Homo sapiens: one gene and its partner. The protein of the gene in region 1 purifies or fractionates together with the protein of each later gene. This does not show direct contact. Each region holds a gene or a part of one and is shown on either strand. Other genes may lie near its edges.

Evidence for each region.
Region 2: the proteins of OSTF1 (region 1) and GOT1 purify together in Homo sapiens (affinity purification with mass spectrometry; one large-scale study listed by BioGRID and IntAct). This does not show direct contact.

Annotation. Positions count from the first base shown.
Region 1 is NC_000009.12:75,140,215-75,144,037, forward strand, and holds part of OSTF1 (osteoclast-stimulating factor 1), read left to right. Parts: intron 1-619; coding exon 620-718; intron 719-3,823.
Region 2 is NC_000010.11:99,406,309-99,410,131, reverse strand, and holds part of GOT1 (aspartate aminotransferase, cytoplasmic), read left to right. Parts: intron 1-3,282; coding exon 3,283-3,406; intron 3,407-3,823. UniProt on the Homo sapiens protein: Biosynthesis of L-glutamate from L-aspartate or L-cysteine. Important regulator of levels of glutamate, the major excitatory neurotransmitter of the vertebrate central nervous system. Acts as a scavenger of glutamate in brain neuroprotection.

The DNA of each region.
Region 1 (3,823 bases):
AATGGTTACCTTAGGCGTAGGTAGAAGATGAAGGAATGAAATGGGACTTGTGCTTTTGTTCAGCATACATTTGTATTTTTGAATCCTTAACAATGCAAATGTATTCATGAATTCTGATGTAATTTTGAACACAATAAAGGCAAAGGAAAAGTGGGTAGAAGATGGCTTATGGGAATAATGAATTGCCTCTTGGTTTTACGTGTTGCTATTCTGTTAATTTGCATGAGAGCAGACTTACAGATATAAAATATTAATCCCCTCAAGCACTATCCACTTGGTCTTTTCTAAAGACCCTCTTGAGCAAAAGAGGAAGCAAAGGGCTCATTGAAGTCAAGCCCCACAGGGACCATAAACTCCTCACTGAAAAGTTCACATGCAATTCTATAGGGACTCAAAAGGTTCGGAATTAATTGTTATCACAGGTGCAGCAACAAGCTTCCCGATTAAAGATGCCAAATTATACTGCATGAGAAAGTTTATTGTTTTGAGAACGTTTACTTCTGAGCCAGAGTTGTTCACTAGTTTATTTTGCCAAAAGTTGTTAGCTGTGGGGAGAGAGGATTGGCTACTACTATATAGTCTTCAAAGACACCTAATTGACTTTTCTTGTGTTGGGAAGGTGCTAGAACAGACTTAAGAAACATTGAGAAGAAGCTGGCCTTCGACATGGCTACCAATGCTGCCTGTGCATCTCTCCTGAAAAAGAAACAGGGAACAGGTATTTGTTTTAAATTCTTCTTTCTCCTCTGGTGCCCCATAACTAAGATTTATTAACTTAGAATGGCGCAAAAGAGATAAACTCAGCTGAGTGCAGTGGCTTATACCTGTAATCCCAGCACTTTGGGAGGCCAAGGCAGGAGGTTCACTTGAGCCCAGGAGTTGGAGACCAGCCTGAGCAATAAAGTGAGACCTCTGTCTCTACAAAAAGTACCAAAAATTAGTCAGACATTGTGGTGTGGGCCTGTAGTCCCAGCTACTCAGGAGGCTGAGCTGGGGGATCACTTGAGCCCTGGGAGGTTGAGGCTGCAGTGAGCTGTGATCGCACCACTGCATTCCAGCCTGGGTGAGAGCAAGACCATATCTCAAAAAAAGAAAACCAAAAAAAAAAAAAAAAAAAAAAAAAAAGATAAACTCTTCAGATGATTCTGAAGTTTGTTTCAATATCCTTGATCTTAATGAGAACCCCCAAAATAGGACACCCTCAATTAAACAGAAATTAGACAAGAAACATAATCTTTTACCTTTATTGTGTGTTTCTTTTATTCCTTGCAATTAAGTTCTAATCACCCTGCTTTCCATTACAGTCCTTTTCAGAGAACGATCATCTTCATTCCCTCATTTAAATATGTATTTATGAGTGATTACCACTAAATATTTTTAAAAATAACATTTAATAGCTCCATGATTATATTTTATTTCTGTTTTAAATGAGGATATCAGTAAACTGTAATCAAATTTATTCTAGACTTTGCTAAATCTTCTGGACTTTATTCATAGTATTATGGGTGGTTTTTTAAAATAGAGTTTAAATGTACATTATTATTATTTTTTTAGATGGAGTCTTACTCTGTTGCTCAGCCTGGAGTGCAGGTGTGCAATCATAGCTCACTGCAGCCTCAAACTCCTAGGCTCACGTGATCCTCCCATCTCAGCTTCCTGAGAAAATGGGACTACAGGCATGTGTCATCATGCCCAGCTAATTTTTTTTTTAATGTAGAGATAGGGGTCTTGCCATGTTGTCCAGGTTGGTCTCGAACTCATGGACTCAAGCCATCCTCCTGCCTCAGCCTCCCAAAGCACTGGGATTACAGGCGAGAGCCGCTGTGCCCAGCCTCCTTTTGTTCTTTATTCTAGATATGTCTTTGTTCCAGATTTCTTTTCTTTTTTTAACTTCAGTTTGAATATAGTGTAACTGCTAATCAGTTGGTATTCCTTAATTAATCCATGAGAGCTCACTGGGAGTGCAAGCCTTTCTTTAAAGTAATTCCTCATGGATAGATGGAGATGGGTTCTACTAAGGGAATGGGAAAGTATCAGCTGAGCTGGTGCTCCCCAGCTACATTATGATTGAGAAGCCATATTTGCAATAGTGTGAGAGACATACTTCTGCTTGAGTTCGACCTCCTACTCCTTGCTGCCTTGATTGGGTCAGGAAGTAGGAGTCTGGCCTAACTTCCTTTCTCTGCCACTGACTTCCTGTTGTGTGGCTACCCTTAGCCTGTCCTGACCGAAGAGTAAGGCTTCTTATGACCTGAAGGTATCAGAGTCTAATGCATGCTATGAGCTCCATTTTGATAGACAAGGCATATACCAAACTTTCTTAGACCTCAGAGAGCTTACCCAGAAGCCTTACTCAGGAGTGGTTTGAGTTGAGGGAGGCAGGTAATGAGCCTTTCTGCAGCCTTCGTAGAACAGGGCTGGGAGGCAGGTACTCTTTTCTCTGTGCACCCCAAGTGTGTTTAGTCTACCTTCCTGAATTTGAACTGATTAGGTAATAGATTCATTAATGAGGTAATCTTAGGGCCTGGCAGACAGAGCCAAGAAATGAGTTTTTATATTTCAATTTTCATGTTACTTTTAAAATGTTTTTTCTTGCTTCATTTCCCCAATTATACAGTTAATTTGTATTGTGATCCTCATTGGAATAGGTTTGGACTATTTGGCCATAGAGTTAATTGTCAGCATGAACTCTAAGTTGGAAAAGGTATATTCTGATATTGTTGTCCACTTTTTTTTTTTTTTTGAGACAGAGTCTCACTCTGTTGCCCAGGCTGGAGTGAAGTGACACAATCTCAGTTCACTGCAACCTCCGCCTCCCGGGCTCAAGTGATTCTCCTGCCTCAGCCTCCTGAGTAGCTGGGATTACAGGCATGAGCCACGATGCCCGGCTAATTTTTGTATTTTTATCAGAGATGGGGTTTCACCTTTTTTGTCCAGGCTGGTCTCGAACTCCTGACCTCAAGCGATCTGCCTGCCTTGGCCTCCCAAGGTAGTTGTTGTCTACTTTTAGAAGCACAATGTGGATTTTTTAATAAGTACAAAAATTCACATTTTGCAGTTACTATGGAAGATAACTAGGATATAGGGCTGGGGGTTATACTCGAGTTGAGCCCTTTAACATTTTTTTCCAACTTTTAAAAATTTGTGTATAATTTACATTAAGTAAGTACATAAATCTTAAGCATACAGCTTGATTAATTTTTTTTACACCTGTTCACCACAACCCAGATGAAGCTAGAGAACAGTTCCCACACGCCACATGCCTCCCTCAGTGTCTTCTGCTTCTCTCACCATAGATTAGTTCTGCCCGTTCGTGAACTTTATGTAAATGGAATCAAACAGTATGTACTTTTTGTGACTGACCTCTTTCATTTACATTATGTCTGTGAGAGTCATCCATATGCCTGTGTTTATTTCTCCATCATTTATTTATTGTTTGTATGTTTGTTGGTTGGTTTTAAGTGCTGGTTCTTGATTTGAGATATGTAAAGCCAGGGTGATGGGACTGAGGTAAAATGAACGTGAGCTAGGGAAGGATGGCAGTGCTGCAGGAAGATACATTCCTATGCGTGCTATGCCCAGAGGTGGGCTGTGAAGAGATACAGGCTCATCACACAACACCTGACCATGTGGGAAAACTGCCTCAGAACAGTTCATGAAAGGAAAGAAGGAGAAGGAATTTATTTGCTGACTTGTGCCTGTCTTTTGATGACCACTCAGTCAGAGTCTGCACTGTGGCAAATCATCCTCTCTTTTTAATAGAAGTAAGAATAAAATAAAGAGCAGAAGTAACCATCCAAGGACACAGAATATGGGCAAAACT
Region 2 (3,823 bases), on another chromosome or scaffold:
AGGGATGAGTGCTCAGTAAGGATCACTGTAAATAACAGAGTAGTTAGCACACCAAATCTGACACACACTGAGCATTTTCACCCCAGTGCACTGCCTTTGCCCCTCTCTGTAATGTACAGCTATGTTTAGTTCTGCATCCCCTTGAATGTCAACTTTGCTTATGTTTCACATTTCAGATAGTATTCTTTCACAGATGCTCACACCTATAAATACAAACAGAACATTGGTGCATAATAGTGCCGATAATTGGTAACATTACCTTGTTGTTGGCTTAAATGGGATTTCTACTAAACGATTCACTGTTTTTAAGCTGACTTATGGGTTAAATGAATTTTTTTCAGTCATTTTCAGGAAGTATCCACTGTTTCCTGTTTTACTAAGCATTTATCTCAGGAATAGCCAAGCTTTTCTTACCTGTTGTGATGATCATTTGGGTTTTCTCTATCTAGCAGCATGATTGGTTTTATATCTCTTATAATCCATTCATGGGATGACTCTCAATCAAGGGGGTAATTTTAATGTACTGCTGGATTAATATTGTTCATTAATGTTTACTTGGGAAGTTAGTATCAAGGTACGATCTAGGTCTCTCATTCTACTTTTTTCCCTTTTGTTGTCTTTTAGCAGCAATGTTATGTTAGGTTCTTGAAAAGATTTAGGAAGCTTTTCTTCTCTAAGAAGAGTTTTAAAACTTTTTTATTGGCCAGGCGTGGTGGCTCATGCCTGTAATCCCAGTACTTTGGGAAGCCGAGGCAGGCGGATCACGAGGTCAGGAGTTGGAGAGCAGCCTGACCAACATGGTGAAACCCCATCTGTACTAAAAACACAAAAATTAGCTGGGTGTGGTGGTACGTGCCTGTAGTCCCAGCTCCTCAGGAGTCTGAGGCAGGAGAATCACTTGAACCCAGGAGGCGGAGGTTGCAGTAAGCCAAGATCGTGCCACTGCACTCCAGCCTGGGCAACAGAGCGAGACTCTGTCTCAAAAAACAAACAAAAAAAAAACACAAAAAAAACCTTTTTATTATGGAACATTTCAAATCTATATGAAAGTAGAGAAAACAGTATAAAGAATGAATCCCTGTGTATCCATCACCTAGCTTCAACAATTATCTGTATAGGGTCAATCCTGTGTATTTCCATCTACCCACTCCCTGCCTCCCTGCCTCCCTGCCCTCCACGAAAGCTGGATTATTATTTAATAGTAAATCCCAGACATCTAAATAGGTGTTTGAAATTGTAAAATTTTATGACTAATACATGAATACATTCATCTTATTTTTAAAAAAACGACTTATAGATTAGGCCAAAGTCCCTTTCAACCACTATTCCTACATCCTTGGACCCCTCCCCAGAGGTTGCCACTGTTAGAAGATTGGCGTGTGTCCCTCCTTGTATTTACTTATTTATTTATTTGAGACAGAGTCTCACTGTGTTGCCCAGGCTGGAGGGCAGTGGTGCGATCTTGGCTCACTGCAACCTCTGCCTCCCAGGTTCAAATGATTCTCACGTCTCAGCCTCCCGAGTAGCTGAGATTACAGGTGTGTGCCACCATGCCCAGCTAATTTTCTTGTATTTTTAGGAGAGACAGGGTTTCACCATGTTGGCCAGGCTGGTCTCAAACTCCTGGGCTCAAGTGATCCACCCACCTTGGCCTCCCAAAGTGCTGGGATTACAGGCGTGAGCCACTGCGCCCGGCTAGATAGACTTTTTCATGTGATCTTTTTCTTCCTTTCTCTTCAATCCTTTAGACAAATTGGGCAACATGGGGTTTATGACATTTTTCTGCTGAGAGACTTATGCTGAAACCTAATTAGAATTTTGAAGAGGCAAAATCAAAGATCTATAGGCAGAGAACTACATCATTAGAATGTAGTGACTCCATCTAGAATGGAAAACCTGGATTTGTGCTGAGCTGTGCCACTCACAACTGTGTATCCTTTGGGAAAAACATGTCTCTGAATCAGTTCCTCATGTTTCAGGGGATATAGACTTGACTTTAGAGGGCATGTGGGCATTGAGTATACATGAAAGCATTTTGTAAATGATAAAATATAGGAATAGAAAACCAAACACCTCATGTTCTCACTTAAAAGTGGGAGCTGAACAATGAGAACACGTGGACACAGGGAGGGGAACATCACACACGGGGGCCTATCGGTGGGTGGGAGGCAAGGGGAGGGAGAGCATTAGGACAAATACCTAATGCATGCGGGGCTTAAAACCTAGATGACGGGTTGATGGGTGCCACAAACCACCATGGCACATGTATAGCTATGTAACAAACCTGCACATTCTGCACACATATCCCAGAACTTAAAGTAAAATAAATAAATAAATAAATAAATAAAATATGGCTTTTATTATTGCCTATGTTAGGTCACTTTAGGATGAGAGGAAGCCAGCCAGGCGCAGTGGCTCACACCTGTAATCCCAGCAGTTTGAGAGGCCAAGGCAGGCAGATCACAAGGTCAGGAGTTCGAGACCAACCTGGCCAAAATGGTGAAACCCCGTCTCTACTAAATATACAAAAAATTAGCCGGGCATGGTGGCAGGCGCCTGTAGTCCCAGCTACTCGGGAGGCTGAGGCAGGAGAATCACTTGAACCTGGGAGGCGGAAGTTGCAGTTAGCTGAGACCATGCCACTGCACTCCAACCTAGGTGACAGAATGAGACTGTCTCAAAAAGAAAAAAAAAAAAAATGAGAGGAAGCCAAGGAGAAGAAAGTAGTACTCATGCATCACCTCTGTTTTGTTAGAACATACTTCTAAGGATTAATAAGCCTGAATTCTAGAGATGAGGAGTAGCACAGATTGATGTCAATGACAAGTTAGGAACACTGTTTTAGAGGCTTATGCTAGAGGGTAAGTTTGATCTTAGGATGGGTGCTGAAGAGATGGGTTTGCCTTCCAAGGCATGTGCGTGCATGCACACACACACACACACACACACTAATGTGGCCTCGGTGTGTCCTCTACCTCTGTGTTCAGAAGGGAAGCTTCTTCTAGTGTCAGACCTCCTGGGTTGAAGACTGGCACTCCTGCTCAGTAGCTGGTAACTTTGAGCAAGGTTCTTCACCTCTCTCAGCCTCAGTTTCCTCAGTTGTAAACATGGGCAAATCATAGTACCTTTTTCATGTAGTAGTTGTAAGGTTTTGATGAGATAATACAATTAAAAGCCTTAGCACAGAGCAGGCATAGAGTAAGTGCTCATTATTACCTTATTTTTGTAAATATTATCTGACCTCACCATTATCAGCCTGTGACCCTGTTTCTTCTCTTTCAGGTAGGAGGTGTGCAATCTTTGGGGGGAACAGGTGCACTTCGAATTGGAGCTGATTTCTTAGCGCGTTGGTACAATGGAACAAACAACAAGAACACACCTGTCTATGTGTCCTCACCAACCTGGGGTGAGTCTTTCAGCTGAAGTGAGAGGAAAAACAGAAACCAGAGAGAATTATCCTCATGACTCTCCCTGGTTACACAGAAAATGTAATCCAGCCCTAGAACAACTGACTGTTGGGAATGGCTTGAACAGTGGGTTATGGCAGTGCATGAGAAACCTGCTGCTCAAAATCAAGTTAAGAATACTCTTTCTCAAGACTCTTAGTAGACTTGTATCTACCAAGGCTATGTTGAAACTCCCCAGAGGAGGCATAGAATGTAGATGCAGGAAGTATCATTGTAGTAGAATATAAGTCTGGCATTAATGTGACTGGTTGAACTTGTTCTTGGTTACAATCATTCCTCTACATCTTAACCCCCAGCCTGGATGATGCCCAGTGGACATTGAGCCTGGGAGGGCCCTGGAAGCTGACTTGCATCCT